2 linked regions of the Homo sapiens genome follow. The protein of the gene in region 2 interacts with the protein of the main gene of each other region in a biochemical or structural test. Each region holds a gene or a part of one and is shown on either strand. Other genes may lie near its edges. The genes, in order: OTUD4 and ALKBH3.

Evidence for each region.
Region 1: the proteins of ALKBH3 (region 2) and OTUD4 form a complex in vitro, tested with the Homo sapiens proteins (one large-scale study listed by BioGRID).

The regions. Positions count from the first base shown.
Region 1 is NC_000004.12:145,138,836-145,142,660, forward strand, and holds part of OTUD4 (OTU domain-containing protein 4), read right to left. Parts: intron 3,500-3,825; coding exon 3,361-3,499; intron 2,805-3,360; coding exon 2,544-2,804; intron 1,157-2,543; coding exon 1,116-1,156; intron 1-1,115.
Region 2 is NC_000011.10:43,894,201-43,898,025, reverse strand, and holds part of ALKBH3 (alpha-ketoglutarate-dependent dioxygenase alkB homolog 3), read right to left. Parts: intron 724-3,825; exon of another isoform or gene 1-723. UniProt on the Homo sapiens protein: Dioxygenase that mediates demethylation of DNA and RNA containing 1-methyladenosine (m1A). Repairs alkylated DNA containing 1-methyladenosine (m1A) and 3-methylcytosine (m3C) by oxidative demethylation. Has a strong preference for single-stranded DNA.

The sequences.
Region 1 (3,825 bases), on a different chromosome or scaffold from region 2:
TTAAGACTCCATTGCTTGCTCCTGTCCTAAAACCAATCTGAAGTCCTCATAGGTTGATAGGAGATAGTATCTCCATCACTGACTGTTTAGCCAGACCTGCATTCACATTCGGGCTCTACCACTAACTCACTGTGTGACCCCATGCAGGCCAGTTAACATCTGAATTTGTTTTACTGGGAATGTCAGTATAAGAGTAGATGATCTCCAATGTCAGGACTCTGCAATTCTAGGAGCCCCCAAGAGTACTCCGAATGTAAGGATTAAGTTAGACCTCTAATCAGGGAGGGATAATGTTGAAAATGAAATATTCCAAATCCTTCCTCTGCAAGAGTTCAGCTAAAAACCAAAATATGAAGAAAGTATAACCAGCTAATTGGCTAACCAATTAAAATCAACATTAAATACATTAAAATTAAGCAATGCAGCAGATAGTAAAATAATCAAGTTTCTTTTTATGAAAGTGGTCAGCAGGCTAAAGGTAGGGCACTTCGTTTCATAGTTTAACTGTCTAGAACCCACAAAAACTAATCTAGGTCAGGAGAAAACCTAACATTTAACAAGGACAGAGTTCTCCAACCTAAGAAAAGCTATTTCTAGGTTGACCACTTCCCAAAGGATACCTCTGCTCTTCTAGTCAACAACCACACTATCTTACATAGGAGGATGTACACGTTATTTCCTTTGATCTTTTCAATAATGGAGGCAAGTAAAGAATATTACCCCCATTCTATAAATGAAAAAAGCTAGGCCCAGATACACTACATGGCTTGCCCAGGGAAATTCAGCTAAAGAGTGATGGAGCAGAACTTCAAGCCCAGATTTACATCTAATTATTCCCCAGCAAGGGCATTTCCACTAGGCTGCCCAAAGATGCAGCTATGTCTTAAATATACTCACAGGTTAAGCCATCACCAGTTAAGACAAAAAAGTAAGTAAAACTGGAGCCTCTACTAGCACCAAAAACAAACGATATAGTACTGAAAATGCTGGTTTTTAAAATGATGAGATTTAGTAAACTTTAGGTTACTGACTGACAGGGTAAGAGTTAACACTAGTAATAATTTAAAACACTATTAATGAATAAAATAACTTTTAAGATGATAAAATGTAAATACCTTCACACCAAGATTGAAGAAGAATCGAAGAATATTCTTATCTAAAAATAAAAGTAATCACTTGTTAAAATTATATATCTGCAGAGATTTTTTTAAATCATCCTCATTAAATATATAGTTCTAAAGACAATTTTACCTACTATAATTGTCTTCTCTAGCCTGTGATACAAAACATAGATAAAAACTGTAATATAACACAACCCAAAAACAGGTTGTTCCCAAAGGTTAATTCCAGATTCAATAGGCTTTGTCTGTTAGCATATAAATCCCAAAATGGCTTAGATTGAAATTTTTATCTCATTAAAACTGAATCTGGGTAAAGGACATTCAGGTGGCTTTCTTTCTCAACTTTTCTGGGGGTTTAAAAATTAGGAAATAAAAATGTTGAGAAGAATGGTAAAATCAACATAAAACCTAACTTATTAGTAGCATCATTTGCAGGATAATATTCTTCCAAGTATTCATATGCCATGAGCCAGTTACTCATAGACACAAACATCAAACTACTAACTAATAAAACAAAAACATCCACATAAATCCAGGTAAACAGCATATAGTAGTCAGTGCATTACTCAAATTTACAGATATAAAATTTTGGAAACTAAAAAGGAGGGAGGTGTAAATTCCTTAAAAATAAAGAGGGAAAGCAAACTTTGAAAGAATTTTTTAAACAAAAATAAGACATACTAAATATAGTACTTTAACAGCCACTACATACTATATTTGCTTTTCTCTGTAACTTTTTCACGGATGCATGTCTGAAATGCAGACCAGTGTTGATAAAGCTCCACAGTGTTTAGGTATCTAATTAGTGAAATTATTATTGTAATTCAGAATGGTTTCAAGTCCATTTATGTAAAAACACAGAAGGAGGTATCATTACTAAGCATACTAGCATTAACAAGTATGCTAGAAACAAAAAAAAATTTTCTGGGCCAGGCGCGGTGGCTCACACCTGTAAACCCAGCACTTCGGGAGGCCAAGGCACGCAGATTACGAGGTCGGGAGATCGAGACCATCCTGGCTAACACGGTGAAACCCCGTCTCTACTAAAAAATACAAAAAATTAGCCAGGCCTGGTGGCATGTGCCTGTAGTCATCCCAGCTACTCAGGATGCTGAAGTGGGAGAATTGTTTGAATCTGGGAGGTGGAGGTTGCAGTGAGCCGAGATCACACCACTGCACTCCAGCCCGGGTGACAGAGCGAGACTCCGTCTCAAAAAAAAAAAAAAAAAAAAATTATAATACATTTTCTAATAAATCAAGCTGAAACAAGAATGACTGACTAATAGCTAAAACTTTGCTGTCCTTCCCATCCTTGAGCTTACTAAGAAACCAGACCTCTGACCTCTACTTACATCTCTTCATTTCTTAACTAAGCTTATTTGGACTTGATAAAGTCGATTTGAACTTGGAGAAGGAGCTCACCTTTAGGTAGGTCCTCCCCAGTCTGACACAGTGAATAAGGTGGTACAATGGCTCGATCTCCCTTTTCATTACAAGGAAACCCAGGATAGAGTGGGTCTTGATAAAGGCTCAATGTCTGAGGCAAAGGCATCAAGGGCTGGTTAACTGCCTGTATTGACACAGGAACTGGAGAGGGTGTTAAATGAGCTTGGGATACAGCTGAATCAGGTCCAGTGGTCAAAGTCTGTGTCACTGACAAAACGGGAATTGGAGCAGGGACACCTACAAAAGAGAAGAAAAGGAATCAAAATGACAAAAGATGAAAATCTCTACAAATATGCTTACATTAACCTATAAAGAATGCTGTATAACTGATAAAGCCAATCTAAAGTAGTACCTTTTAGTATCAACCAAGAGCCCTCCTGGACACCAAGAAGGAAATACGTCCAGGATACAAGCTCTGAGTCAATGTCTTCTAATAGTAGCTCTTGCAGGCACGTGTAGGACATGGGGCTGGTCAAGGGGTTCATTACGGGGCCATAAAGAGCTGGCCCATGAAGGAAGCATCAAACCGTGGTGCTAATTAGTGCTGAGCAACCAAAGCAACCAGCTCAAACATCATGCTCCTGAGACTATGAGGGCATATGTCAGATGAATACAACACCAAATGTACATGGTCTTTCCACATTGGAAGCAGAGCAAAGCAGAGTATCACAGAAAGCTCTGTGAGGCTCCACACACCTAATCCTGCTCAGAGGTCAAACTTCCACTCAAGAATTTGAAGTCTCTGACTAGAAAGGTATTTTGGCTGGCTAGATTTTCTAAACCCTTCTCTAACCTGTTGGTCCAAAAGTTGTAGGTTCACTTGGCCAGGCTGGCACAGTGGCTGGTAAAGAAGGCACCGCAGGAGTTAGATGTACCTCTGGAGAAACTAGAAGGGGAGCTGGATTTGACAAAGACACATGTTCTGCTGGCTTCTTCAAGAAAGGGGTGAGTGGGGGAAGACAGAAAAAGACAAGAGGTCATTTTGCTTTAACACTATTTCTAACCACCAGATACATATTGAGTTGCCTGCCTTTTATACAAATGAAGTACAAATAGCCCTTATAGTCTTAGAAATGTAAGAAAAACACACAGTAGCTAAAGATAATATGCAAACAAATTTGATCCTAACCAAGGGTTGCCTACCAACAAGGACTGTATTTTTTAATACAGACAGGGTTTCACCCTGTTGCCCAGGCTAGTCTCAAAACTCTTGGGCTCAAGCGATCTGCCCGCCTTGGCATCCCAAGGTGCTGGAATT
Region 2 (3,825 bases):
TTCTTGCAGGATGACGAAGATGTCTCTGAAGAGGGCGTGATGGAAGGTGGAGTCCAATGGGGCACAAAGGTTATGCCTCCTTCTAAATGGCGAAGGTAGTATTCAATAATTTTCTTTCCTTTTTTTAATATTGCTGGTATATTGTTTCATTGCAATTTTTTCCATGGTACTTTCAAAACCAAAGAAAGATTTAATATCTAAACTTGCAGACTGTTCAAAACGGGTCCAATCTTCATTTTCAGGGTGAACGGTATAGCAATTGGAAAATGTTTCATTATGACCCTCAATGTGCAAAGTACGTTCCCGAGAATTCAGTGAGTTCTTCTGGACAAAATAAACGTAATCAACTCCTGCAATCTTCTTCAGCAGTCTTGGTGCATCTACATCCAGCTTGCAGCGCCTTTCAATGACATGAACAGCCCCATCTTCACTCTTGAATTCATTCACAGTGTCACTGCCCATGAATGTCGGAATCAAAGGACACGTAGGGAACCTCCTTTCATAGGCAGCCATAATTAATTTGAAGGGGTATTTGTATACCCTCACTGGTGACTGGTATTTTTGCACCATGATTGTAATACAACAGCAATCCTTTCACACCTGTCTTGCCAAGGATAATCATTAAGTATGGTATTTTAAGCTGAATATGGTGAGAGGATATTAAAACTTACAAAACTGAATATTCTCAAGGAGCCCAAAGTCTAGTTCTTGTCAGAATGGCTGGGCCTGGGATGTGGGGTGGCGACGGGCGCTCATACCAGCAGCTCTGCGGAGCAGTCGCGGTTCCACTAACAGGTGCTGACTTCTTAAAGGTTAGTTGCAATATGGAATCTGAAACCATGTCAAACTTTTCATATTATTTTATATATAAAGCCACTGTCAGCCAGGGCAATAAACTGAGACCCCTCTCTATAAAAAATAAGCCAGGCACAGTGGCACGTTTGTTGTCCCAGCTACTTAGGAGGCTGAGGCAGGAGGATCGCTTGAGCCCAGGAGTTCAAGGCTGCAGTGATCTAGGATTGAGCCACTGTGCTCACTCTAGCCTGGGCAACAGAGCAAGACCCTGTGTCTCTAAAAAAAAAATGCTTTAAATAAAAAAAAATAATAAAGCCATTGGTCCAGCCTACACTTTGAATAAATCTTTAACCTTGTATGGTTTTGTAACATCAACCACTGGTCATCTGGAAAATATTAGTTCACTAAGTTACACAGATCTTCTAAATGCTGACACATTTCATTATAAAATAACAAAAAAAATTCTCATCCAACAATATTACCACTGATCTCAGCAGAAAAGCCTAAATAATGGGAAGAAGTCAGGCTCAAAGTGACTGTGATGGTTAATACTGAATGTCAACTTGATTGGATTGAAGGATACAAAGTATTGATCCTGGGTGTGTCTGTGAGGGTGTTGCAAAAAGAGATTAACATTTGAGTCAGTGGGCTAGGGAAGGCAGACCCACCCTTAATCTGGTGAGCACAATCTAATCAGCTGCCAGTGAATATAAAGCAGGCAGAAAAATGTGAAAAGGAGAGACTTGTCTAGCCTCCCAGCCTACGTCGTTCTCCCGTGCTGGGTGCTTCCTGCCCTCAAACATCGGACTCCAAGTTCTTCAGTTTTGGGACTCAGACTGGCTCTCCTTGCTCCTCGGCTTGCAGACAGCCTATTGTGGGATCTTGTGATTGTGTAATTAATACTTAATAAACTCCCCTTTATATATATACGTGTGTGTGTGTGTGTGTGTGTGTGTGTGTGTATCTATCCTATTAGTTCTGTCCCTCTAGAGAACCCTAATAGTGGCAGATACCAGTTTTCTAAAATTCTAATTTTTGCTTGAAAACCTAACTTTTATCATTAGTAAAAAAAATCTTGTCCATTGTTTTCCTTGAAGTGACATTCACGTCACTCATTTATGAGGAAATGTCTGCCAAATACTCAAGTTTGAATAACCACAGTCGGTCTGCCCGTTGTATTTTAAGCAAAAACAATCCACAACAAAAGTAGCTAGTTCAGCTTACAGCTCAAACAATCACACTTTAGTTTGTAGCTGGAGTACTTTAGGTACACTTTTAATTTCATTAAGAAGACTATTGGGAAGACACATACTCAAAGACCAAGATTTAATAAAATGAATAATGTTTACTACTTCATCAATAGACATTCTTAAATGAAACTGGCATTTTTTAAAGTTTACACTGGAAGCGCATGATGATGACGAACACAATGACTACTAGCAGAGTTTGGTGACAATGGCTTGATTCATGCTAAGGTGCTGGCAGCTTTATCCACCATTACCATCAGTGCAAACCCAACACAGTGAAAATACCATACAGACTTAGTATTATTATGAAAATAGTTTTACTTGTAGATTCCCAAAAAAGGTTTCATGAACCCTCTCCAGGGATCTACAGATTATACTCTAAGAACTGTTACTTTAGGGAACTCCTTGAATGTCTATTGCATTAGTCTGTTCTCATGCTGCTAATAAAGACATACCCAAGACTGGGTAATTTACCAACAAAAAGAGGTTCAATGGACTGACAGTTCCACATAGCTGCGGAGGCCTCACAATCAAGGCAGAAGACAAAGGAGGAGCAAAGTCACATCTTACATGGCAGCAGGCAAGAGCGCATGTGCAGGGAACTCCCATTTATAAAACCATCAGATCTCATGAGACTTATTCACTACCATGAGAACAGTAAGGGGGAAAATGCCCCCATGATTCAATTATCTCCACCTGGCCCTGCCCTTGATACACGGGGATTATTACAATTCAAGGTGAGACTTGCGTGGGGACACAGCCAAACCATATCATGTTATATGTTTCGCAGTGAAGAAACAGACGTTCAGCAAAGGAAGGAATATTATTGTTACTATTATTAAGTATATCCCATGGTTGTCAGGTAAAACTGCCAGGGAAGCTTACATAATCACTCAGCTTTACTCTGATGTGAAAACCATGGTTAAAGATGGAATTCCTTGTTGTGGATACTACATTATAATATTATATTCTAAGCAGAGGATTTTAAAAAATAAACAGCAAAAACAACAAATAGTTGGCTAATGGGACACCTGGGGAGACTCAAGAAGCCTCCAGAAGTTGGAAGTTTCTTTATCTCTTGTTCTCCTTTTTTATTGTGGTAGAAAAACACATAACATGAGATCCACACTCATAAAACAAAAATATTAAATAAACCTTTGTTCAAGAGAATAAATTCCAAAGTGAAATTCCAATAATAATGTCAGCAGGCTGTATTTCCTATTTACTTTACAGCTTTAAATTTATCTTCATAGCGATAAAGATCAGATGCTAGAATTACACGCTTAACAAGAAAAACAAGAATGTAAAGGAGGAAGATGGGCTTTTTTCTCCAATGTTACTGGGAATCTAATTAGCACTTCCCTGACTTGCTCAGGGACTGAATACTGAGATAGCATAAAGTTTGTGTTATGTTTCTAAGTAGGTATTTTTTTTCTGGGTTATTTTTGGTACTGAAACAGTGAGAAAAGGAAGAAAAAAGGGGATAATGAACTAGAGGATTAATTTAGACTCTCCAACCAATACTCTATATTCAGATGCCTCAGAACTGAATGTCTAAATTAAAATTCAGCATTATCTCACTGTTCAGTGAAGACATTTTATCCTTAAAAGACATTTTAGGAAAAGAATACAAAAAATATGAATCACAGAAGTGAAAGGACCTATTCAGTGGATTTCAAACAGTGTTGTATAGAGTTCTAGGTACCTCAGAGGTACCTCTGGGTCTACAGGAGAAGAAAGGAGAGGTCAAGTTGGTGGGACTCCCAGCCAGTCAAGGCTCTGA